Homo sapiens: one gene and its partners. The protein of the gene in region 4 purifies or fractionates together with the protein of the main gene of each other region. This does not show direct contact. Each region holds a gene or a part of one and is shown on either strand. Other genes may lie near its edges. The genes, in order: KLHL22, LRP2, ACTR1B, PDGFD, UBR1, MAEA and PRKCI.

What was found.
Region 1: the proteins of PDGFD (region 4) and KLHL22 purify together in Homo sapiens (co-immunoprecipitation; 2 studies listed by BioGRID and IntAct, with this or other methods). This does not show direct contact.
Region 2: the proteins of PDGFD (region 4) and LRP2 purify together in Homo sapiens (affinity purification with mass spectrometry; 2 studies listed by BioGRID and IntAct, with this or other methods). This does not show direct contact.
Region 3: the proteins of PDGFD (region 4) and ACTR1B purify together in Homo sapiens (affinity purification with mass spectrometry; 2 studies listed by BioGRID and IntAct, with this or other methods). This does not show direct contact.
Region 5: the proteins of PDGFD (region 4) and UBR1 purify together in Homo sapiens (affinity purification with mass spectrometry; 2 studies listed by BioGRID and IntAct, with this or other methods). This does not show direct contact.
Region 6: the proteins of PDGFD (region 4) and MAEA purify together in Homo sapiens (affinity purification with mass spectrometry; 2 studies listed by BioGRID and IntAct, with this or other methods). This does not show direct contact.
Region 7: the proteins of PDGFD (region 4) and PRKCI purify together in Homo sapiens (affinity purification with mass spectrometry; one large-scale study listed by BioGRID and IntAct). This does not show direct contact.

The regions. Positions count from the first base shown.
Region 1 is NC_000022.11:20,489,296-20,492,795, forward strand, and holds part of KLHL22 (kelch-like protein 22), read right to left. Parts: exon of another isoform or gene 536-3,500; coding exon of another isoform or gene 473-535; intron 1-472. UniProt on the Homo sapiens protein: Substrate-specific adapter of a BCR (BTB-CUL3-RBX1) E3 ubiquitin ligase complex required for chromosome alignment and localization of PLK1 at kinetochores.
Region 2 is NC_000002.12:169,209,035-169,212,534, reverse strand, and holds part of LRP2 (low-density lipoprotein receptor-related protein 2 precursor), read left to right. Parts: intron 1-327; coding exon 328-567; intron 568-2,893; coding exon 2,894-3,082; intron 3,083-3,500. UniProt on the Homo sapiens protein: Multiligand endocytic receptor. Acts together with CUBN to mediate endocytosis of high-density lipoproteins. Mediates receptor-mediated uptake of polybasic drugs such as aprotinin, aminoglycosides and polymyxin B.
Region 3 is NC_000002.12:97,655,439-97,658,241, reverse strand, and holds the end of ACTR1B (beta-centractin), read left to right. Parts: coding exon 1-18; intron 19-124; coding exon 125-299; intron 300-732; coding exon 733-794; intron 795-1,049; coding exon 1,050-1,090; intron 1,091-1,281; coding exon 1,282-1,384; 3' UTR 1,385-2,303; downstream 2,304-2,803. UniProt on the Homo sapiens protein: Component of a multi-subunit complex involved in microtubule based vesicle motility. It is associated with the centrosome.
Region 4 is NC_000011.10:103,996,648-104,000,147, forward strand, and holds part of PDGFD (platelet-derived growth factor D isoform 1 precursor), read right to left. Parts: coding exon 3,404-3,500; intron 1-3,403. UniProt on the Homo sapiens protein: Growth factor that plays an essential role in the regulation of embryonic development, cell proliferation, cell migration, survival and chemotaxis. Potent mitogen for cells of mesenchymal origin. Plays an important role in wound healing.
Region 5 is NC_000015.10:43,054,039-43,057,538, forward strand, and holds part of UBR1 (E3 ubiquitin-protein ligase UBR1), read right to left. Parts: intron 2,405-3,500; coding exon 2,306-2,404; intron 862-2,305; coding exon 704-861; intron 1-703. UniProt on the Homo sapiens protein: E3 ubiquitin-protein ligase which is a component of the N-end rule pathway. Recognizes and binds proteins bearing specific N-terminal residues that are destabilizing according to the N-end rule, leading to their ubiquitination and subsequent degradation.
Region 6 is NC_000004.12:1,292,891-1,296,390, reverse strand, and holds part of MAEA (E3 ubiquitin-protein transferase MAEA), read right to left. Parts: intron 1-3,500.
Region 7 is NC_000003.12:170,228,924-170,232,423, reverse strand, and holds part of PRKCI (protein kinase C iota type), read right to left. Parts: intron 1-3,500.

The DNA of each region.
Region 1 (3,500 bases), on a different chromosome or scaffold from region 4:
ACCACACACAGACTGGCCAGCTCTGTTGCTCCCCTTGCTCCTGTGCCTCCCTCAGGCTCACCTGTTTTCCCTCTATTTCCAAATCCCCTAATTCCTTCTCCCCTCCCACCTCTAGTCCAACTTCCTGATGGCCTTCTTCCTGATGACCTGTGTGCCATCATGCCCAAGACTCTTCATCTCATTGTATCTTCTTCAGCGGCAAAGTCAAACAGAAGGGTTTTGGGAAACAGACTGACCTGGGTTGGAGCCCAACTCCACAGGGACTTACAACATGACCAAACTGAGCCTCGAGCTCCCCAATTTTAAAAAGAGAGATAAAAGTACCTACCCCATTGGGGTATTCTAAAATTGGTAAAACAATGAACATGAAGCATAAGCACACACCAGGTTCTCAAGAGCTCTTCCTCCCTCCCATTGAATGAACAAAATTGGGTTCTTCCTCATAGTAATGGATGCATAAAAATGGCAAGACCTGAGTAGTGGTCAGGAGACACACAGCCAGGAGTCTGGGAGGTGGGTGCCAAGGGGGTGGCATTTCCAGGGCCTACTTTCCTTTACTGAAATTCTGAGAGTCAAGCACAGTAACTGTGATTGAACCTGATGCATTTAAATTCATCTGCATTGCCTTTTAAATTAAAGATTATCTTCTAATAATTGAGTCAGTACGTTCAAAAACCGCAAACTGATTTGAATTGGAGCCTCTAAAACCTAATCAGTAAAATGAACCTACTGCAAATGCACTTTTGCCATGGAGCAACCAAAAGTGACTGTGGATAGCCAGCTGTTCAGGTCAGGGAGTGGCCAGTCCCACACTGTGAGGCATGGCCAAGCTGCAGGCTCTGTAGGCACAGCACAGTCAGCTACAAGATGTGAACATCTGTCTTCTCCACCTCACTTCATCCTACTTTCCTCTCCCCAAAATATGTTTATTCTCCAATTACCTCCAGTCATGCATCACTTAATGTTGGGGATACATTCTGAGACTTATATCGCTGGAGGCAATTTCCTCAGTGTGTGAACATCAAAGGGTACACCTACACAAACCTAGGTGGTAGAGACTACTACACATCTAGGCCATAAGGTACAGCCAATTGCTCCTAAGCTACATACTTGTACAGCATGTTACTGTAGTTCTGAATGAAAAAAACACACTGTTTTTCCTCTCCTCTTATACCACAACAACAAACACAGGAGACTTCTGTGACCAAATGTGTGAGGGTTTTTCCCCATTAACAAGCAAGCAATCAATTCTGCCACAGATACCAGCTGGGTGTCTTCTAATTCAGCAGTCCCCAATCTTTTTGGCACTAGGGACCACTTTCTTGGAAGACAATTTTTCCACGGGGTCGGGGAATGGTTTCGGGATCAAACTGTTCCACCTCAGATTATCAGGCATTAGCTAGATTCTCTTTCGGAGCACACAATCTGGACCCCTCACATGCATGGTTCACAACAGGGTTTGTGCTCCTATGAGAATCTGATGCCACCTCTGATCTGACAGGAGGTGGAGCTCAGGTGGTAATGCTGGATCACCCTCCACTCACCTCCTGTTGTGCCACCTGGTTCCTAACCAGCCACAGACTGATACAGGTCTGAGGCCTGGGGGTTGCGGACCCCTGCTCTAATTCAACTCTAACACTACCTGGAGACAGTGTCTGATCCCACAGGTTGAGGGCTGAGTCTCCCAGGTTGTTTCACCTGTGCTTCTGACCAATAGGCTATAAATTGGGTTCCCAAGATCCCCTTCTTGGGTTCAACTAATTTGTTAGAGCGACTCACAGAACTCAGGAAAATACTCATGTCTACTGGTTTGTTATAAAGGGTATTGCAAAGGATACAGATGAAGAGATGCATGGGGCCAGACATGTGGGAAGTGGTGCAGAGCTTCCAGGCCCTCTCCAGGAACATCACTCTTTAGGAGCCTCCATGTGTTCAACTATCCAGAAGTTTTCCAAACCCAGTCATTCAGAATTTTTATGGAAGCTTCATTATGTAGGCATGACTGATTAAATCACTGGCCATTGGTGATGAACTTAATCTTCAGCCTGTCTCCCCTCTCCGGAGGTTGAGAGGTGAGGCTGAAAGTCCCAACCCTCTTATGCCTGCCTTGGCCTTTCCTGTCACCAGCCCCCATCCTGAAGCTACCTAGGGGCTGCTGGCCAGCATACAAAAAGGCATCACTCTGGAAAGTCCAAAGATTTTAGAAGTTGTATGCCAAGAAATGAGACAAGACCAAATATATATTTCACAATATCACAGTACTGAATACTATAGGCAACTGTAACACAATGGAATTTGTGTATCTAAACACAGACAAGGTACAGTAAAAATATGGGACCACCATCCTTCATGTGGTCTGGTCTGTCATTGACGGAAACATCACTGTGTGGCACATGATTATATATCTTTAAAAGAAAAAATGAAAAATATATGCTGATATAAAACTTGCCAAAAAGAAGAGGTCTCTCTCTTCACTACTGAGGCTCAGGGCCACCCCCAACCCCATCCCCTGGATGCTCTACTGCTTCCCATCAAACACACTCAGTTATCTGTGCCTGCCCCTGAGTCTGCCTCCAGGACCTGGGACCTCTATCCAGCCACCCACCCATTCCTTTCCCCCTCCTGGGCTGGCTCATCTTTCTCACCAAGGCCCCAGAGATGGCCACAGCCAAGGTGTATACCCCATGACCACCTCTCACTTAGGATTCTCTTGCCTGGAAACTCTGCTCTATGATAATTCTCCCTTTTCTGACCTCTCTCTTTCATCCCACACACCCTGCTCGAGCCCATCCTTCTTTCCCAGTGGTTCACATTCCCAGTTTCACCTACAGCTCAGTGCCTAATCTAGCTAGTAGCCCTCCAACTTGTCTAATTTTACTATCAAAGCTACCATTTCCATCTTGGAAACCTCACTGTTTTAATATTTTTCCTTTCTAACCCATGTGCCCTATGAACCTACTAGTTCTGATTCCTTCACCTCTCCTCCATCTCAGACAGCCACCCTCCACTCCTCCAGGGCCACCACTCTGGGTCAGACCACAGCAGTGATGCCCCTACCAGTTTCCCTACCTCTTGTCTCATCCTCCCCAGGCTGCTCTCCTTCAAGCCTTACCTACTCAGCCCCATCAGCAGTCCTTAGTCCAAAAGGGATACCTGTCATCCCCTGAACACCTTTAGTCACCCATCTAGGCCATTCTGTCTCTCATAGTCCCATATTGGTCAAGGTCTAGCTCGATTACTTCTCCCTCTATCATTGTACAGAGAACATGACAAATATGCCCCACCATTCAAACCTGCCCTTTTTTTTTTTTTTAGACGGAGTCTCGCTCTGTCACCCAGGCTAGAGTGCAGTGGTGTGATCTTGGCTCACTGCAACCTCTGCCTCTCAGGTTCAAGTGATTCTCCTGCCTCAGCCTCCCCAGTAGCTGGGATTACAGGCGTGCACCACCACACCCAGCTAATTTTCTTGCATTTTTAGCAGAAATGGGGTTTCACCATGT
Region 2 (3,500 bases), on a different chromosome or scaffold from region 4:
CATATTATTTTAAGTGCCAGTTCATAGGCAAATTATGAGCAGATTTATATACTGACCTCCCTAATCCTCGCATGATTTGTAGAAGAAAACAAGTGAAGCCCCATTCTCTAACTATTATACAATAGTTGGGTTACTGGTTTCATACCTTTAGGTGTTATTGTATAAGCTCTAGTCTCTCCGATGTTGTTTTTAGATTGCTAACTCAGCTACTATATGTTGGTTATTAATTTTTAGAATAAATTATTTGGTGACCCAATTAAAGAAATTTGAGATGGGGTGGCGAGTAGCTAGGATCAAAAGTTACAAATGGATTTTGTTTTCATTTAGATGCCGCCGAATCCTCAAATGGCTGTAGCAACAACATGAATGCCTGTCAGCAGATTTGCCTGCCTGTACCAGGAGGATTGTTTTCCTGCGCCTGTGCCACTGGATTTAAACTCAATCCTGATAATCGGTCCTGCTCTCCATATAACTCTTTCATTGTTGTTTCAATGCTGTCTGCAATCAGAGGCTTTAGCTTGGAATTGTCAGATCATTCAGAAACCATGGTGCCGGTGGCAGGCCAAGGTATGCCAACTCCAATATAAGTAAGATTTGACTTCATCTGGCACCAGGTTGAAATCCCTGGTGCCATGAAAACATTTCTTCATGTGTGGATTCAGTGCATAATGAAGCTTTCCTTTCCCTTTAAATCAACTGGCACAGCCTAAAGTGTTTTTCAAACTTTAGTGTGTCTCAGAATCACCTGGAGGGCTCACGCCAACACAGCTCCAGACCTCGTCCCCAGATTTTTCTGATTTTGTAGTCTAGGGTAGGGCCAGAGAATCTGCACTCCTAATAAGCTCCCAGGGCATGCTGACGGTGCTGGCCCATGGATCACGCTAAGAACCACAGGCCCAGAGCAATATAGAATGTAGGATGGGTTTGCAAGAAGTACTACAGAGTTGGTGTTCCAAAGAACTGTGCCCTATTTCTGATTATTAATGGAGATTTATGGTAGAAGGTATACTACTATTTAATATGGTAATGAAATAGTCCACAAATATGATTTATTAATATATATTTGGTGAATTGAAGCAAAAGAGTTCACAGTGTCAGTCCCTCTTTAGTAATCATATTTTTGCAGCACTTTGTGCTTACATACTGTGAATGTATGAAACGATCACTTGCTTCCTAGATGAGCCAAGGTTTTTAGGTATACCTTAGCACAAGAGGAACTAAGAGTTTTCTAACATCGCTAGGAGAATGTCACAGGCTAAAGAGAGAAATAGAGGGTAGAAAGGAAGGAAAAAAGGATGAAGTCAATGAAGGGGTTGTAGAGATGGTCAGAAAATACAGAAATGCACCTGGAGAAGGGAATCAGAGAGCTTCCAGTCCCACACGTCCTCCTGCCTGATGGTCATGTTCACGTGGACCCATGACTCATCTTTGTTTTTCCATATCTAAAAAGTTATGGATCTAAGTTATCATCTTGTACAGATATGACAAATTCAATAGTTTTTTTCTCCCAGCTTTTCATTAAAAAAATGTTCAAACACAGAAACGTTGAAAGATTTAGGAAATATCCTTATACCCTTTACCAAGATTTAACAGTTGTTAACATTTCTTCACATTTGAGCTCTCAATTTGTATGTGTGTGTGTGTACATGCATATGCATTCACATTCATTTTTTATGAACCTTTTAAAAATAAATTTTAATACCATGCCACTTTACCCCTACATATGTTAGCATACAGTTTCAAAGGGCATTATGAAATATTCATAATCATATTTCTCCAGTTGGCCTCACAATATTTTATATATAGCTGTTTTGTTCCATCCAAGATCTAATCAAGATTCATGCACTGCACTGGGAATATCTCATTAGTTTCTTCCAGTTTGGAGTAGTTGCCTCTAGCTTTTTGCTATGACATTGATGTTTTAAAGAGGCAGACCTGTTGTCTTTGAGAATCCCACACTGAGGATTTGTCTGAATATTTAGTCTGTCTTTCATTTTTTACCCTGCAGTTCTCATGAAATGGAAGTTAGGTCTAATTGCTTGATTAGATCAAGGTTAAATACATTTAGCAATAATACTTTATAGGTTATGCTGTGTTAGTTGATACAGAATCTTATTAGGAAGAACATAATGTCAGCTTGCCCTGCTCTTAGTGGCATTTGAGTTTGATCACTTGGTTAAGGTGGTCACTGCTACACTGCTGCTTTTTAAAGCTGTATTTTTTTTCCTTCTTAATTTTGGTGGAATCTATGCAATCACACTTAGGCCCTGTGAATGTCTTGGCTCCCAAGCACCTTTTACCCATTGGTTTTGGCAGCCATGGATGATCCTTGTTTGAAATGATTATTTAATCGAGGATTGCAAAATGGTGATTTTCTTATTTTAGCATTCCCTTTACATTTGTTAGATAATATTCTTCTATAAAGGAAAGCTCTTCGTGTCTCCCCGGTTTACTTTTTAAATAATTTATTATTATTATGGGCTCAAATTTTTATTTTTTAAATTCAGTGTGTTACAGTCAATTACTGTAATCCTTCTTTTGATGTTTTAGTGGATCCATTTTGGCCAGGGAGAACCTCTTCAAGTGGCGACCTGTATATTTCTGTGTATGCCTTGTTTCTTGGTACAATAAGATGTTTCACACTCACTTCGTACCTTCCCTGCCTAAACCTATAATCAACATTTCTCCCGGGAGCCAGAGCTCCTTATTGTGGGAAAGAGTAGAAACCAAGATGTGGGTCTGCTCACTGCAACTGGGAAAAAAGGGTTTCATTTTGTAATGGGGAGATGCTCAGAGCAGGGGGTTGGGAATGAGGGTTTGAGAGGAAGGGCAGACATTTAAAAGTTCTAATTTCAGTGACAGCATTTTTTAATGATCTTTTCTTAACTTCCAGGACGAAACGCACTGCATGTGGATGTGGATGTGTCCTCTGGCTTTATTTATTGGTGTGATTTTAGCAGCTCAGTGGCATCTGATAATGCGATCCGTAGAATTAAACCAGATGGATCTTCTCTGATGAACATTGTGACACATGGAATAGGAGAAAATGGAGTCCGGGGTATTGCAGTGGATTGGGTAGCAGGTATGTAAGCTATATGGTGATTTTAATATGTTTGCATCTCTGTCATCTTATTTTATGCTAGAAAGTTTAGCCTAACTCCATGTGCTACAGGTTTGTTTTTCTAGACAATTATTAAGACCATTTAAGATACATTGAATCTAGATTAAGCTACGTGTCTATTTGATAAATGATACGGTGTTTCAGTTTACAGATTTATAACAAATTAATCCTTATCATTTTCTTCTGTTATTAACATAATCTGGAGACAAAAGTGGCTAAAATATTAAATTATGTGGATTTGTTTTTTTTACACTTAGATTTGCACCTGATTTCTGCATTAGAAATTTTCTAAATTTTCAAGAGAAAGAGATATAAAAATATAAACTATGGAACAGCATTCATTTGCTTTGAAGCTGAGCAATTTTAGTTGCCAAATTCT
Region 3 (2,803 bases), on a different chromosome or scaffold from region 4:
GACGGCAGCACGCTTGATGTAAGTGGCCGGGCCTGGCACTGGAGTGGCAGCCGATGCCCAGCCTGGGGGAAGGGGTAGCCCGCTTCTCCAGGAAGCCTGTCTGCCTCAATCTTGTACACTAAAGGTGGGGCCTGCACGATTCCGGGCCCCCGAGCTGCTGTTCCAGCCGGACCTTGTCGGGGATGAGAGTGAGGGGCTCCATGAGGTGGTGGCCTTCGCCATACACAAGTCCGACATGGACCTGCGCCGGACGCTGTTCGCCAACATCGTGCTCTCAGGTGGCTCAACGCTTTTCAAAGGTACTGTGGCTTGAGAGTTGGTGGTGGTGAGACGAGGCCCAGGGCAGCTGGACCCTCAGAGAGTATACCCCTACCCAGAGCCATATTCTGTTGGCTTTTTGGTGGTGCTCAATGAACATTTTTTTTAACAGACCAAAATTTAAAATTAAATTTTGTTTACTCTGTGAATAGAGGAGAAGTTTACACAAGCTCTAAAGTGTATTGTGAGAGTCGAGCAAGGAGCATGTGCGGCTTCATCTCACGCTGCCTCTGTGAGGACGCAGGGCCCGCAGGCAGCCATGGGGCTGGATCATTTCTCAGCCTTGCCCTTCATCCTGGGAAGAGCTGCTGATAGAGGACCAGCAGTAGCTGGGGGCCCTGAAGGCTGGGTGCGGGAGCTAGCAGCGAGGAGGCCGGGTGCAGACCCCAGGCTCAGCCAGCTTTGTGTTCACAGGCTTCGGAGACCGATTACTCAGTGAAGTGAAGAAGCTTGCCCCAAAGGATATCAAAATCAAGGTGAGGTTACAGAAACTCCCCCTGGGGCACTAGGGCGCTGGCAGCCTTGGCATGGGGAGGAAGGTTGAATGCTGCCCCCAGACCCGCTCACCAGCTCACGTCCACCTAGTCCTGTTCTTCCCAAGGCTGCTGCTGCCACTCCCCAGCTTATGCCTTTGCTGTCAGGCTTCAGGACCTGGGGAAGGTGACCCCAAGGCTGGGAGGATGGCTTCTGGGTGGGGATCCACAGTTAACGTGGCCACTTCCTCCTTCTAGATCTCAGCCCCGCAGGAACGGCTGTACTCCACATGGATTGGGTGAGGCGGGGCTCAAGGGAGGGCTCTGGGAGGAGACCACTTTACCCTGGATGCTCCTCCCATTGTTGGCCTAGGCCACGTGGAGGTGGGTGGATTTCCCTCCCAAATTAGGGAAATGCAACTCTGAGCACCCAGGAAGGTGGTTGGCTCCCTGACAGGTCCACAGCAATACTATCCCTCCATCCCCACAGCGGCTCCATCCTGGCCTCGCTGGACACTTTTAAGAAGATGTGGGTGTCCAAAAAGGAGTATGAAGAGGATGGCTCCCGTGCTATTCATCGCAAAACTTTCTAGTGCCCAAGGAGGGCGGGGCATGTTGGGAGAGGGGGAGGGAGGGGAGACAGAGCCTTTAACCCTTTTTGGTCTTGGCTCGTATACTAGGCTTAGGGTCCCCTGCATGCCCTGAACCCCTGGGTGGGTGGCACAGCAGTGCCCCCCTGCAGCCTTCCCCTCTACACAGGACATGCACACACAAGTAACATTGAGCTGCATGGACAGGAGCCTTGAGCTGGCGTGTGGGAATTGAGCGCCATGTCAGGCTGTTGTGGGTATCCCCCTGGCAGGGCCAGCTAGGCCTGTGGTTCCCTGCTCCGACTCTCAGGGCTGCCTCCCTGAGCTCCAGGGCCAGAATGCCTGGATGCCTGGGTAGCCAGTTTGGGGAGTGGGCTGCAAGGGGCAGCCAGCAGCTCCCACTGGTGTGTCACTGCATCCATTGCCACCTCCTGTTCGTGACCTGACAGGGTGACACAGCCCCTTTCACACTCTGTCCTCCTATCTTCCTGGGTAGATGCCCTGGTGTAGGGCTGAGTACTGAATGGTCTTCCATCCCCAGCAAGGGGGTGCAGCCCAGGGTCAGGCCCTTCAGAGCCAGGGCAGAGGATGCACGGTGGCTAGAGCCGCTGCACTATCCTTTTCAGAGCACTTCATCCACTTGCTCCTCCCTCTACCCTCGGCACCCTGGGTGGGAAAGGGTTGATGCTCATCATTTATTGAGGGGAAGCCACTTAATAAGGAGTCAGACCTAAAAGGGGGTGGGGGACATTTTCTTACCTCACCCAAGAAAGAGGTCGTCACTTTTGCTGTGGCCAGGGCCCCACCTCCCTCTCTCAGATATGTACAATAATTTAACACGGTTGCCTGAAAAAAACTTTTGTAAATCATTATAGTAATAATTATGGACAAGGCCCAGTGTGTGGCTCTGTTTTCTTGTGGCTCTCTGTGCTATCGTTTGTTCTTCCATCCCTGGGGACTTTCAGAGAAAGGACCAGAGAGAATGCAGCAAGGCACTGGCTCTAGCTTAGCGGCATGAAGGTTTCAGTGGTTGGCCCGCCAACGTGGCACAAAAAGCCTCAGGAGGCTGGGCTCTCACCCTGTAGCATAATTCCCTCGCCTGTTACCTCCCCTGCTGCAGTCCACCAGGGGAAGTAGAACCAGGCTACCTTCTTTGCCCCCGGACCCTGGACAGGCCTATTTGAGCACCTCTGCTCACCCCATTCAGCCAGGGCTAAGGCTGGTGGACACCAGCAATGATGCAAGCTCACGCCTTCAGACAAGTCAGGATGGGGAAGGCAGGGAGAGGCAGAGAGGCTGTGAGCTTAGCCAGGCCCTAGAGGAATAGGCAGAAGAGCAGTGAGGAATTAGGGTTTGGAGAATGTCTGCTCTTTACTTTCTTAAGTGTTTGAGAACCTACAGTGTTTCCAGGATGGTGCCGTG
Region 4 (3,500 bases):
TTAATTTACTGCATTCGGTGCTTTCTTGAGAAAGTAAATGACCTATATCTATATAGCTTACAAAATCAGTAATGCCATTACAGAAAATAAATGAATACACACGACTTGCTATATTCTCTTTTTGGAAACGATCTTTTGGAATGATCACGTCATAAAATATGAAACTTATCATGAAGGAAAGCATGTAACTTTAAGGAGAGATGTGTGCTAACCAATATTGGAAAAATCTGAGCTGGTTAAACCAGGGTGTGAATGAGCTTAAGACCATAAGTTCACCTCTGGCATTGGTCGGAGAAACTAGAATCCTGGGATTCAAGAAGACAGCAAAAGCTGCTTTAGTTATCCTTGTGGGCATTTGGTCTTCAAAGCACCTCCAGAGTGTTCCATCATTCTATCACATAGTAGGAGATCCTCAGTAACATAGTTTACATCTTCTAGGGAGCACTTATTCTATTTTCAGCTCCCTAAGATGTTGGAACCTTCTACTTGATAAGCTGAACTATTTCTTTCAGTTTTGGTCATCAGTATCTCGCTCCTACAATCTACTTTTCCACAGTGACTTCAGATGCTGAGGTCACAGGCAAATGATGGGCATTCAGGGTGAACAGTGGCAGAAATCTCACATCCATATTACAGTTTTCTGTTACAATCATCAGAAGGAATCATCATAAGAAACATTATTTCTGAATACATAGAGAAACCAATATGGCCTTCCTGGTCTTACTCATGCACCTCAGAGCTCTACTGGATTGGGCAAGGTAATGTAAAAAGAAAGTAAAAAATAATGATATTGTGACTAAATTTCTCTAACAGTGATTTACAAGGCCCTTATGTCCGTTGCCTCAGTTTCCTTATGGATAAAATAAGAAGGCTTATATAATTTTACCAGCTCCATATCTCTTGGGTGCTGTGTAAATTAATCACTTAATGTTTATATGGTGCTTGGAAGGTAAAAAGCACTAACAAAGTATCATTATGCAAGCAACAAAATATTACAATGTAAACATCAAGGAGGCTTTGGAACAGATGGTAGGAAATCAATTCCATTTCATTTTGTATACAATACATGTAAATCATATTTACTGCACAAAGCATGACTATAATTGAAACTTTTAATAACACCATAGGTCACTTTTGTTTAAAGAACACATCATTGTAACTTTAACTCTGAACCTGAAGTCAAGAGAGGGCTGTTTTATCTCTTAGGGAGGGTTCTGAGACAAGTCTCTGGTCTGTCTCTTTCCCGTCTTTCTCTCCTCTTTTCTACCTGCTATACTTCTACTTCCTTCCATAAATTTTGAGGAGCAACTAGATTTGATTAATGGTTCAGAAAGGAAACCATCCTCACTGTTCCTCCCTTAATTTCAAGGCCAGGATGTCAAAAGGACTCACTGCTAGGATCAAAACTCCAGCTCAGTAGTGGAGACCTGGCTTCCCTTCTGTGATATTGTAATAATAAGAAATATATATATTTGGTCTTTGTTCCTGGCACAGGCTCCTAAAACTCTTGGAATTTCTGAGTGCTGGGGTTAGAGGAGCATCTTTTTTTATTCATAATAAGCCCCCTTCCAACCATACCAGAATTTATCCTAATGAATAAATTCATTGCCTTTTGGAAGTACCTGTTGGGAGGCCCCGAGGTAGCTTCAGAATGGAGGCTCATCACCAGAAAGAACAAGACATGATTAGAGAGTTGTAAATTTTGGCTCCACCCCTAGACCTCTGGGGAGGGAGAGGGCCTGGAGATGGAGTTCAATCACCAATGATTTAATTAATCGTGCCTTCACAATGAGACTTCCATCAATACTCTTCTAGGCTGGTGAATACATCCAGGTGTTTCGAAGGTTGCAAACCCAGAGAAAGCACTCTTTCCATACATCTTGCCTATGTATCTCTTTCACTTGGCTGTTCCTCAGTTGCATCCTCTATAATAAACTGGTAATAGCAAGGAAACTGTTTCCTTGAGTTTTGTGAGCTGTTCTGGCAAATTATTCAACCCAAGAAGAGGGTTATGGAACCCCTATTTACAGCTGGTTGATCAGAAGTAGGAGAGGCTTGGAAGCTGCAACTGACATAGAACATGGAGGCAGTCTTGTGGGACTGAGCCTTAACTTGTGGGATCTGACACTGATTCCAGGTAGTGTCTGAATTGAATTGAATAGGACAAAACAAGCTGGTGTTGGAGGATTAACTGCTGTGGGAAAAAACCCTCACCTCACAGATTTGGTATTGGAAGTGTTCTATGGGCAGAAACAGATCATGGTACCCTCCACATCATCACCTTTAATAATCTTTTAATAGCGTCTTTTTCCCATGATTTTTTAGGCACAGAATATTAGTTCTTTTTTTTTGAGATGGAAAAGACGCAAGATCAGCATTAGTTTATTCTCTTTGTAAATATTAACTGGCTCTTCCTTAATGTATTCATCTCTGCTTTCTGGCATACATTACCCTCTATGGTCCTAGAAAGTAATAGTCAGTGCTGTTATTCTCAGCAAAATAGCAACATAATAAAAGCTGTCAGCATAATAAACATGCAACAGAGGACAACCAAATTTGAGGCCCCTCTTTTTATTATTCAAAGGAAAATAAACCCGCTGAAAGGATTTAGCAGTTCAGTAGTTCATTGGCAATGCAGAACAAGTGTGTGCAGTAAAGTACAAAAAAGAAAAAAAAAATCTTCCTCAAGTCTTATACATGCTAATTAAGCGAGTAAAATGCTGTGAGCGGACATTCAAAGAACAACAGTCCAGGCTTTCTTTGATAAATATGCTAAGAAGAGAGAAGATTATCAGACACAGCTTTCATCTTCTACTTGTGACCCAGAAACTGCAAGAAACAGACCCTTCTGAGGAGCACAGGGAATCTGGGGTGAGCTTTCTCTTCCTTCCCACCCGTATCTGAGGCCTTAACACTATGAATTCGGGGTCAGGCCCTGATAGCTTCCCCAACCATCATCTCCCAGTGCTGGCGTAATTCATTATGGGTAGGAAGGCCTGGGTCAGCGGGAGCCGGGCAGGGGTTTATGCTCCCTAAGCCCATGGCAGGCTTTGACCACACATGATGCAGCTGCCCGTAACCTGGGATGCTGGATACCTGTGCATAAATGCTGCTCTGTGCCTGGAAAAGGAGAGGACCTCCAGATTTCACCCTTCTTTGGAGGTCACACAGTCCTGACAGTTGCACAAGTGAGTTTCTGTGAGTACTGCCAGGTTATTCGGCTCTCTGCCTCAGCAGTCTACGCTATCTTGTCTGTTAGGGTCTTTAGGCTTTTTGAAAAAGAAGCGACACATGTTGGGTCCATTTAAAAGGCTCAAAAGGAATGTTTGATACGATGCTTTAAATTCATCTTTTTCTTTTTTCACCTTGAAATAGTACCGTAAAAATTTTTTTCCCAACTTACCTACAGATATCATTTTCTGCTTCCTCTAATCCAAACTGATTGTCAAACACTAGCTGTATCCGTGTATTCTCCTGAGAGTGAAGCCGCCATGTCAGGA
Region 5 (3,500 bases), on a different chromosome or scaffold from region 4:
TAGCAAAAAGGAGTTAAAAAAATGTTAACAGCCAGCCGCAGTAGCTCATGACTGTAATCCCAACACTATGGGAGGCCAAAGCAGAAGGACTGCTTGACCCCAGGAGTCCAAGTCAGCCTGGGCAACAAAAAGTGAGACTCCGTCTCTACAAAACAATAAAAAATTTGCCAGGCATGGTGGCACGTGCCTGTGGTCCCAGCTACATGGGAGGCTGAGGCAGGAGGATCACTGGAGCCCAGGAGGTTGAGGCTTCAGTGAGCCATGTTTGCATCACTGCACTCCAGCTTGGGCAACACAGCGAGACCCTGTCTCAAAAAAAAAAAGAAAGAAATTTATGTCAATAGATTGTCTGAAACTATGCACAAAGAGACTATATAGGAAGGACAGAACCAAAGTGTGTGAGTGGAAGTGAATGAAAAGTATGGTAATTACAATGGCAATGCATTTGGTGACCCCAGGAGATCCCAAGTTCCTGTAATGGGCCTCTCCTCAATACCTTCTTTACTAACCAGGTTTTACAACTCAATAAGAAGCCTTCACTGAAGACATTTATTAACGCGAGGCAGTAACAGTTCTTTGTACTTGCCATCATTATAAAGAGAATTCTGGATAACCAAAATGATCACAGGATTACTTATAAGACACAGCAAATAAGCACACTGAGTTTAACAGGTGCCCTCACCTTTTGACTTGAACAACTTACTTTAGGTCACATATTACTGCATATACTCTTCCCAATTTGTCCTGGCTATAACCCTGGAAGTTGAATTTATTGTTCCTGTCCAAGTACTCAGGTAAAACTTCTAGCAGAGTTTCAGTAATGACAGAGATAACATTCTGCTCTTCAATAAGATGTCGAGCCTGCGGAATATTTCAAGAATATTTTCTTTAGCATTAACTCATTGTGGTATGGACTTAATTTATTCATTCATTTGGTTAGTCAGTATGTCATTTTTAATAAATGTTTGTTATTGAATGTTAAACACAGTCCTTAGTTTCACTGAATAGCAACTACTAAGAAGTTATTTTCTAAAAGAAAAAATTCCCTACTCCTCAGTAACTAGACAACACCTATCTGGATACTCCAAGCCCATTAGACAGGTTATCTAGATAAATGTTTATCATCAGTAATGTGGTGGCTCATGCCTGTAATCCCAGGACTTTGGGAGGCCGAGGCAGGCGGATCACCTGAACTCAGGAGTTCGAGACTATCCTGGTCAACATGGCAAAACCCCATCTCCACAAAAAATACAAAAATTAGCCAGGTGTGGTGGCAATGCCTGTAATCTCAGTTATTCAGGAGGCTGAGGCAGGAGAATCGCTTGAACCAGGAGGCGGAGGTTGCAGTGAGCCGAGATCGTGCTACTACACCCCAGCCTGAGTGACAGAGAGAGACTTCATCTCAAAAAAAAAAATCACACAATGAGCAAGTATAACAAAGATATACTTCATGACTTCTAGCACACTACGATCTATTCTGAAATCTCCTCCTTACCCCAATCTAAACTCTCCTCTCCATCCTTTTGAAAAAGTAAAGTAGAAACAATTAACCAAGTTTGGATAACTATCTAATTCCAGACAAGAAAAGAAGTAGGGCTGGGCGCGGTGGCTCACACTTGTAATCCCAGCACTTTGGGAGGCTAAGGCTGGCAGATCACCTGAGGTCAGGAGTTTGAGACCAGCCTGGCCAACATGGTGAAACCCCGTCTCTACTAAAAATACAAAAATCAACCAGGCGTGGTGGTGCCTGCCCGTAGTCCCAGCTACTTGGGTGGCTGAGGCATGAGAATCGCTTGAACCCGGGAGGCGGAGGCTGCAGTGAGCCCAGGTCGTCCCATTGCACTCCAGCCAGGGCAACCCAGCCAAGACTCTGTCTCAAGAAACAAAAAACAAAGAAAAGAAGTGGTATACAAAGGAAGCAGAATCTTCCACTCTCCTCCCAGGCCTATGCAGCACCCTCTCTCCCAAATGCTTGACAGGCACACCCTCCCACTTCTTAGTTTTATCTTATTCTATCTGCCTACAAACAATAACTTAAAAATAAAATATTTTTGGTATTGAAAAGGCAGTGTTCATAAGTTACTCTAGAAAGTAAGAAACCAGCTCTAGGTGTCATCTGCATTGACGAGGACATCTGAACCAAGGCAGCGCCTAGTTAACTAGTCCTTGGGTAGCACTAAAGTATTCACATAGCCCAACTTAGTGATTCTAACATTGTTCTAATTTGATTCAACATTAAGTGGAATTCTTACAAAGCAAAACAAGTTTTACTTAGAAAGACTGAAAAGGAATAATCAATACATACCAGAGTAGGAACAGTAAACATCTGAACTGAAAGTGCAGTTATAGAGATACTTCTGTCATGATCATCACTGATATATTCTTTCTGCAGTTGTTTATAATACTGAAATATATAAGTAGAGAATCAATTATAAATCACTACTAAAGACCTTTAAAAAATCCCAATTTTAATAACTGCTGCAGGTTTGTTTCTATCTATAAAATGTCAAGTAATATAATTCCTATTTATTAAGGCAAGATATTATGATCAGCAAAAATATCTTAGAAGGAGAATAACAAACAACAAATCAAGTAAAAATTCACCTACTCAATTTAGCAGAGATAGAAGTGGAAACTATTAAAATATACACATAGGTTAAAAAACAAACAAACAAACAAACAAAAAACAGAGGACTGCAATGGTATAGTTTATCCTTTCTCCAAACAGAATCTGGGGCAATCTTTAGCAGCTTCCACTCTAATGGTATTGGGCAGGGAATATATTCAAAGTATTTAACAACTGATATGACCCAGAAAAACCAACCAATCAGATTGAATCCAGCCTTAAACAGAATGGATGCTGGCTGCAAATAACTTCTTTCCCATACTGGTACATAACAGCTGCAAAACAACCCTGATATACTGGGAGAACAAAAATAGGAATATACTCAGTCACATAATAGGCATCTATTATGTGTAAGGCACAAAGTTGGATACTTAACCTACTTTAAGTTAGATACTTTACCCTCCAGAATTCCTACAAAGTTTAAGGGGTAACCATGGTGTACAAAAAAAATCATCTAAGTAGGGAGATTAGCTTTTGTATAAGAAAACAAAATTTCATTTCAGATCACACATATGGTCCAATATTCTATATCTGAAGAGTTTTAGAAGAGAACATCTTGAGTTGCCATCACTGCTGAAGGATAAGACATACAACAAATGTCTTAGTTACTTTTAAGTCTGCATATAAAATCCAGGTAATGCAGGTATCTTATCCCACAGTGTCATTTGCCTACAACAATCATTATTTCTTTCTCTGCTTCCAATTCCATCTTGGGTCCTATATCTATCTTAAGTCTTACAGAATTGACTGCAACTCAAAATCAGAGGAAATCAACAAGTATGACTGGCAAGTATGATTGCCTTATATAAGGCAAAATAAAAGATTCAAAGGAGTCCTTGATCTGTATACCCTTGCAATCTAATTTGGTAGATAG
Region 6 (3,500 bases), on a different chromosome or scaffold from region 4:
GCTGCACAGGCACAGGTGAGGGGGGCACAGGTGCGGGTGGGGGGGCACAGGTGAGGGTAGCATAGGTGAGGTGCAGATGTAGGTGGGGGGCGCACGTGAAGGTGGTGCAGGAGCAGGTGAGGGAGGAGCAGGTGAGGGAGGAGCAGGTGAGGGGGGCACAGGCACAGGTGGGGGGCACAGGTGAGGGCAGCACAGGTGAGGGCAGTGCAGACGTGGGTGAGGGGGGCACAGGTGCGGGTGGGGGGGCACAGGTGAGGGTAGCATAGGTGAGGTGCAGATGTAGGTGGGGGGCGCACGTGAAGGTGGTGCAGGAGCAGGTGAGGGAGGAGCAGGTGAGGGAGGAGCAGGTGAGGGGGGCACAGGCACAGGTGGGGGGCACAGGTGAGGGCAGCACAGGTGAGGGCAGTGCAGACGTGGGTGAGGGGGGCACAGGTGCGGGCGAGGGTGGCACAGGTGTGGGTGAGGGGGTGCAGGTGAAGGCAGCACAGGTGAGGGCGGTGCAGACACAGGTGAAGGGGCAAAGGCGCAGGTGTGGTGGGCACCGGCATGGGTGAGGAGGGCACAGGCGTGGGTGAGGGGGCACAGGCGCTGGGGAGGGGGGCACAGGCGCGGGTGAGGGGGGCAGAGGCACGGGTGAGGGGGCACAGGCGCGGGTGAGGGGGTACAGGAGCGGGTGAGGGGGGTACAGGTGTGGGTGAGGGGGTATAGGAGCGGGTGAGGGGGTACAGGAGCGGGTGAGGGGGGTACAGGTACGGGTGATGGGGCTCATCCACCACGGGTGTGGGAGCAGGTGCAGGTCAGGCAGGGTCTGCGTGACAGGCATGGGCGAGCATGAAGTAGGAGGGAAAGTCTGAGAGAAGGACAGGTATGAAAGGCTCGCCTGGGAGGAGAGGAAGGAGGCTGCTCTGGGCCCCTCCCTCGAGTGGGGCAGCACTCAGGGTCCCGGTCCGGGTCCACAGTCAGCCATCAGCACAGCAGGTGCTTTCTTCTGCTCAGCCACATTCAGCTCAACAGTCACTAAATGTGGTATTAACACAGTGAATAATTCTTTTTGTTCAGGTTTTCAAAATAATGGCCCCTAGCTATAACGATTCTGAAATAACAGACCTAAAAATCATCAGCAGTTACCCCGGCAGGAAGTGTGCTTTGCGATGCCTGGGTCAGCACCCAGACATCCCCACTCGGCCTGAAGCCCCCAGAGGGTGGGGCTCGCAGCACAGCCTCTCTGCAGACGGGGCAGTCACATGCTACAGGCACCGGCCGGCCTTGTCTTCATTCTGGTGCCAATGTGTCTCCTTGGGCTTGCTTCCCATTCTGCTGACCCCTGTACCCACAGACCGAGTCACTGCCCAGCACCCAGTCTCACTGTGAGACCCTCCCTGCACAGCTCTGGGACACCCCCAGCCACATCACCCCAATGGTGCTGTGTGCCTGTGTGCCTACTGGGGTGAGAGCCGGCCAGGACTTCAACACGGTCCACAGAGCCTCACCCCAAAACTTAGCTCCGCCAACCAGCTCACAATATCGCATTCACTGGAGGAAGCTCATCCCCACCCCCGCCCCTGCCCCTGCCCCTGCCCCCGGCCCCACCCCCGTCCCCTGCCACTGTCCAACATCACCTCAACCTCATCAGCGTCTTTAAAGGATCTGAGATGTCTGTGTGTGCTTGTGCTGATGCCTCCCTCCCACCGGAGCGTAGACAGGGGCCTCACTTGTCTCCCCATCATGCTAGCCCAGGGCCTGACTGTGCAGGGCCTGACCGTACCTGGCCGATGGAGGCTCTCAGACCACTGCTGCGGAGGGGGGTATGGGAGAAGCTAAGTGCACCTGCAGCCCTGCTCTGCAGCCCGGCGGCGGTGCCTTGCTTAGGTCCCAGGGCCGCTCCAGGCCTCACGTCAGTACTGCCTCCAACCTAGCCCAGCCATTACGGTGAATCAGGCATTAAAAAGCACTTTCTTGACTTGAAATGTGTTAAAAAAATAATACTTAAAAAAACAAAAACAAAACCAACCCCCCAGCTAGCAGTGAATTCAAGTCTACATCCTTATCTCAGCCTTGCCCAACCAGCTGGAAAGGCCCAGGCCTGGGAGGGAAGACCTGTGCCAGCGCGGAGGCCGCGGAAGCCAGCCCAGGGCCAAACCACCAGCAAACGGTGGGAGAGGCGAGGGGAGTGGAGCTGGGAGCCACAAAGGGCAGACCATGGCTCTTCTGGGCAGAAGGAATTTCCACTGTGCTCTAGAGACCGGGCGGATTCTGGAGGGCTGTGACGTTACTGCAGATAAAGTACATCGAAAAAGCCGGCCACAGAAGAGGTGGAGACCCGGCCTAAGACTCCTCAGACACGGCATCACCAGGGTCCAACCCAATGTGTGTGTCAGTAAGTCAAACGCTTCGTGGTTGCCTGTGTTTCTCACACTCGAGAACACATGATCCTCCCAAATCCAGCCAAGATGGAGTGAAGAAAACTACAAAAGGCGCAGGAGCAGTTACAACTTCAGCACACAGCTGGCACCCGAACTCCCTACCACAGGCACAGACCCAGGCTGTGAGGCATCAGGGCCATGCCTGGGCAACCAGACTGTCATCAAACCAAAGGCAGAACATGCAAATCTTCCTGTAGAGAATTCAGACACCTGAGAATGCAACCACAAGCCCGGTGTTTCTCAGCCTGTCCTCTGGGGAGAGGACAGCATCACCACCTTGGGTGTGAGAGGACTCACTGGAGCTGGGAACCCTTGCTGGGGCTCCAGGAGAGGAGAGGTGGGCCCAGGTGGGGTTCACAGAGAGGAGCCAGGTCCAGACCAGGGTCTCCAGGTGATGAACACCACTTCCCGCCCTGGGCTGTGCAGACACCCATGTGAAATTCTCTAAACTATTATTTTTCTTCGGCTATCTGAAGGGAAATAGTAGGAGTAAATACACCAAAATGTTAATGAAGTTCTCTCTGTGCAGCAGGGTAACTTGAAGAAAAAACAAATTACTTTTATTTATTTATTATTTGAGACAGGGTCTCACTCTGTCACCCAGGCTGGAGGGCAGTGGTGCAATCTCGGTTCACCACAGCCTGGATCTCCTGGCTCAAGTGATCCTCTCGCCTCAGCCTCCCAATTAGCTGGGACTACAGGCGCACACCACCGCACCCAACTCATCAAATTACTTTTATAATCAGAAAAAAAAAAACCTTTTACAAAATAATGAAAGCAAGGGCTTCCAATTCAAGATGGTGAACTATGCATGTTGAATTGAAAGATGGTGAATTCCTGAGGTCAGGAGTTCAAGACCAGCTGGACAACATGGAGAAACCACGTCTCTACTAAAAAATACAAAAAATTAGCTGGGCATGGTGGCGGGTGCCTGTAATCTCAGCTACTCGGGAGGCTGAGGTAGGAGAATTGCTTGAATCTGGGAGGCAGAGGTTGCAGTGAGCTGAGATTGTGCCACCGCGCTCCAGCCTGGGCAACAGAGTGAGACTCCGTCTCAAAAAAGAAAAAAAAAAAAAA
Region 7 (3,500 bases), on a different chromosome or scaffold from region 4:
ATTGCACTCTAGCCTGGGTGATGGAGGAAGACACTGACTCAAAAAATGAAAAATAAATGAAAATAAATGAGTGCAGCCAGGCAAGGTGGCTCATGCCATAATCCCAGCACTTTGAAAGGCCAATGTGGGAGGATCGCTTCGGTACAGGAGTTCGAGGCCTGCCTGGGCAACACAGGGAGACCTTGTCTCTACAAAAAAATTAAAAATTAGCCAGACATAGTGGTGTGTGCCTACAGTCCCAACTACTTGGGAGGCTGAGGTAGGAGGACTGCGTGAGCCTGGGCAGTTAAGGCTGCAGTGAGCTGTGATTACACCACTGTACTCAGCCTGGGTGACAGAGTAGAAATGTGCCTCAAAAAAAAAAAAAGTGCAAAATACTTATCATGGTTCTTTTTCTTTTGTTCCACTTTTTTCAGTTGAGTTTTTTTTGAGACAGAGTCTCGCTCTGTCACCCAGGTTGAAGTGCAGTGGCACAATTACAGGCGTGAGCCACCACACTCGGCCTCAGTAACATTTCTGAATAACACTAACTTTAATTCTTTAAAAGCTTTTTTCTTTAATTGACAGAAATTTTTCTATTATATTTCACTAAGATAAGAGATTATTACTATAATTCAATACTGTCTAGAAAATTCTAGCCTATGGCTAAAAATAAATAAGGCTGGGCGCAGTGGCTCACACCTGTAATCCTAGCACTTTGGGAGGCCAAGGTGGGTGGATTACCTGAGGTCAGGCGTTCGAGACCAGTCTGGCCAACATGGCGAATCCCCATCTCTACTAAAACTACAAAAATTAGCCAGGTGTGGTGGTGCACGCCTGTAATCCTAGCTACTCAGGAGGCTGAGGCAGGAGAATCACTTGAACTTGGGACGCGGAGGTTGCAGTGAGCCGAGATCACGCCACTACACTCCAGCCTGGGCGACAGAGTGAGACTCTGTCTCAAAAAACATAAAATAAATAATAAATAAATAAATAAGATATAGAAAAGAAGAGGCAAAATTGCTACTTGCAGATGACATTATCTAGCTTAAAAATTCTAAGACAGTTAAATTATTAGTAAGGTGGAAAGTTTAATTTAAACATACAAAAAGAAAACAGTATGTAATAGGTCTACAAGAAGACCCCATTCACAAAAGCACATGATTATAAAATATATAGGAATAGGCCGGGCACGGTGGCTCAAGCCTGTAATCTCAACACTCCGGGAGGCCGAGGCAGATGGATCACCTGAGGTAAGGAGTTCCAGACCAGCCTGGCCAACATGGTGAAACCCCATTTTCACTAAAAATACAAAAATTAGCCAGGCATGGTAGCGCCTTGCCTGTAATCCCAGCTACTTGAGAGACTGAGACTGGAGAATCGCTTGAACCTGGGAGGCGGAGGTTGCAGTGAGCCAAGATCACGCCACTGCGCTCCAGCCTGGGTGACAGTGCAAGGCTCCATCTCAAAAAAAAAAAAAACAAAAAAAAAAAATTAAATAATGAATCAAGCCATTCCATAACATATATCAAAGTTAACTATAATATTACAATAATTAAACCAATAGTGGTATGTGCAAAAATAGATCTCTCCCCTAAAATCAATGAAACAATAGAAAGTACCTACGCACATTGTGGGAAATTTAGTACATAACAGAGTTACCATTTCAAATCAGTGGTGAAAGGACAATCTGCCCAATAATGGTATTAGAATAAATTTTGGAGAAAAAAAAAGTTGTGTCAGTACCCTATAAATGACTAAACCCCAAAATACCAGATTCACTGAAAAGATAATCACTTTAAAAGTTTCATAATAAGCCAGGCGCAGTGGCTCACGCCTAAAATCCCAGCACTTCGGGAGGCCACAGCGGGTGAATCACTTGAGGTCACGAGTTTGGGACCAGCCTGGCCAACATGGCAAAACCCTGTCTCTACTAAAAATAAAAAATTAGCCGGACATGGTGGCGCATGCCTGTAATCCCAGCTACTTGGGAGGCTGAGGCAGGAGAATCACTTCAACCCAGGAGGCAGAGGCTGCAGTGAGCCAGGATCGTGCCACTGCACTCCAGCCTGGGCGACTGAGCAAGACCTTGTCTCAAAAAACAAACAAAAATTAGCCGGGTGTTGTGGCGTGCGCCTATAATCCCAGCTACTTAGGAGGCTGAGGCAGGAGGATTGTTAGAACCCAGGAGGCAAAGGTTGCAGTAAGACGAGATCACGCCACTGGGTTCTACCCTGGGCAACAAAGCAAGACTCTGTCTCAAAAAAAAAAAAAAAAAAGTTGCATAATAGAAGAAAAATAGAATATTTTTAGATGAAAAACACTTTTACCTAAGACAGTAAATCCAGAAACTATCAAGGAAATTTTTAAAAAGGACAGGTTTGATGACATAAAAACGAAAAACTCCAGACTAGCAACAGATTGGGGAAATGCTGGCAACTTTAACAAAATGTCAATGTCCTGTCAACAAATTAATAAGAAAAATAATACAATAGAAAATGGGTAAAATAGGAACAATCCAGAAGAAATACAAATGATCATTAATATATAAAAGATACTTGTAAAAATAAATTACCATTTTTTGCCAATCTGACAGTCAAAAATTTAAAAGACAGATAACATGCAATGGGAATATAAGGCAGAAGCTTCACTAGTCCTGTTGTTAAGAATGTAAATTAAGCTCTTTTGGGAAACAATATCATATTTCAAGATAGGCATATCTTTGACCATATTTACAAGAATATGTATTAAATATAAGGAGGTTCCTTCAACATTATTTGAAATAGTGAGTTGATGAAGACAACTTTAAATGTTCATCAATCCGAAAAAAGATTAAACATATTATGGTGGCTGGGCGCAATGGCTCATGCCTGTAATTTCTACACTTTGAGAGGCCGAGGCAGGAGAATCACTTGAGCACAGGAGCTTGAGACCAGCCCCGTCCCTACAAAACATATTAAAAAAAATTAGCTGAGCCTAGTGGCGTGAGCTAATCCTAGCTACTCAGGAGGCTGAGGTGGGAGGACTGCTTGAACCCAGAGTGGTTGAGGCTGCAGAGGGCCTAGATCATGCCACTGCACTCCAGCGTAGGCAACAGAATCAGACTCTGTCTCTTAAAACAACAACAACAACTGTAGAACACTGTATTACCAACTATAAAGAGGTCTGTCTACCCTGGAATGAAAAGATGACCACGATTTTTAAAATCAAGTTGCAGATGCATGTGTGGAAATATGAACTCATTTATTGGAAAAATAAAAGGGTATGTCTGTGTGTGTGTATGCACATACATATCTATACTTATAAATATACCGATATGATATAGAATATCCCTAACTGTTAACAATGGCTATCTCTAGAAAGTGGGAGTGAGACAGCCATAAAAAATAATGAAATCACGTCTTCTACACCAGCATGGATGGAACTGAAGGCCATTATCCCTAGTCAAAAAAATCAGAAACAAAAAGCCAGATACCACATATTCTCACTTATAAGTGAGAGCTAAACAAAGGGTACACATG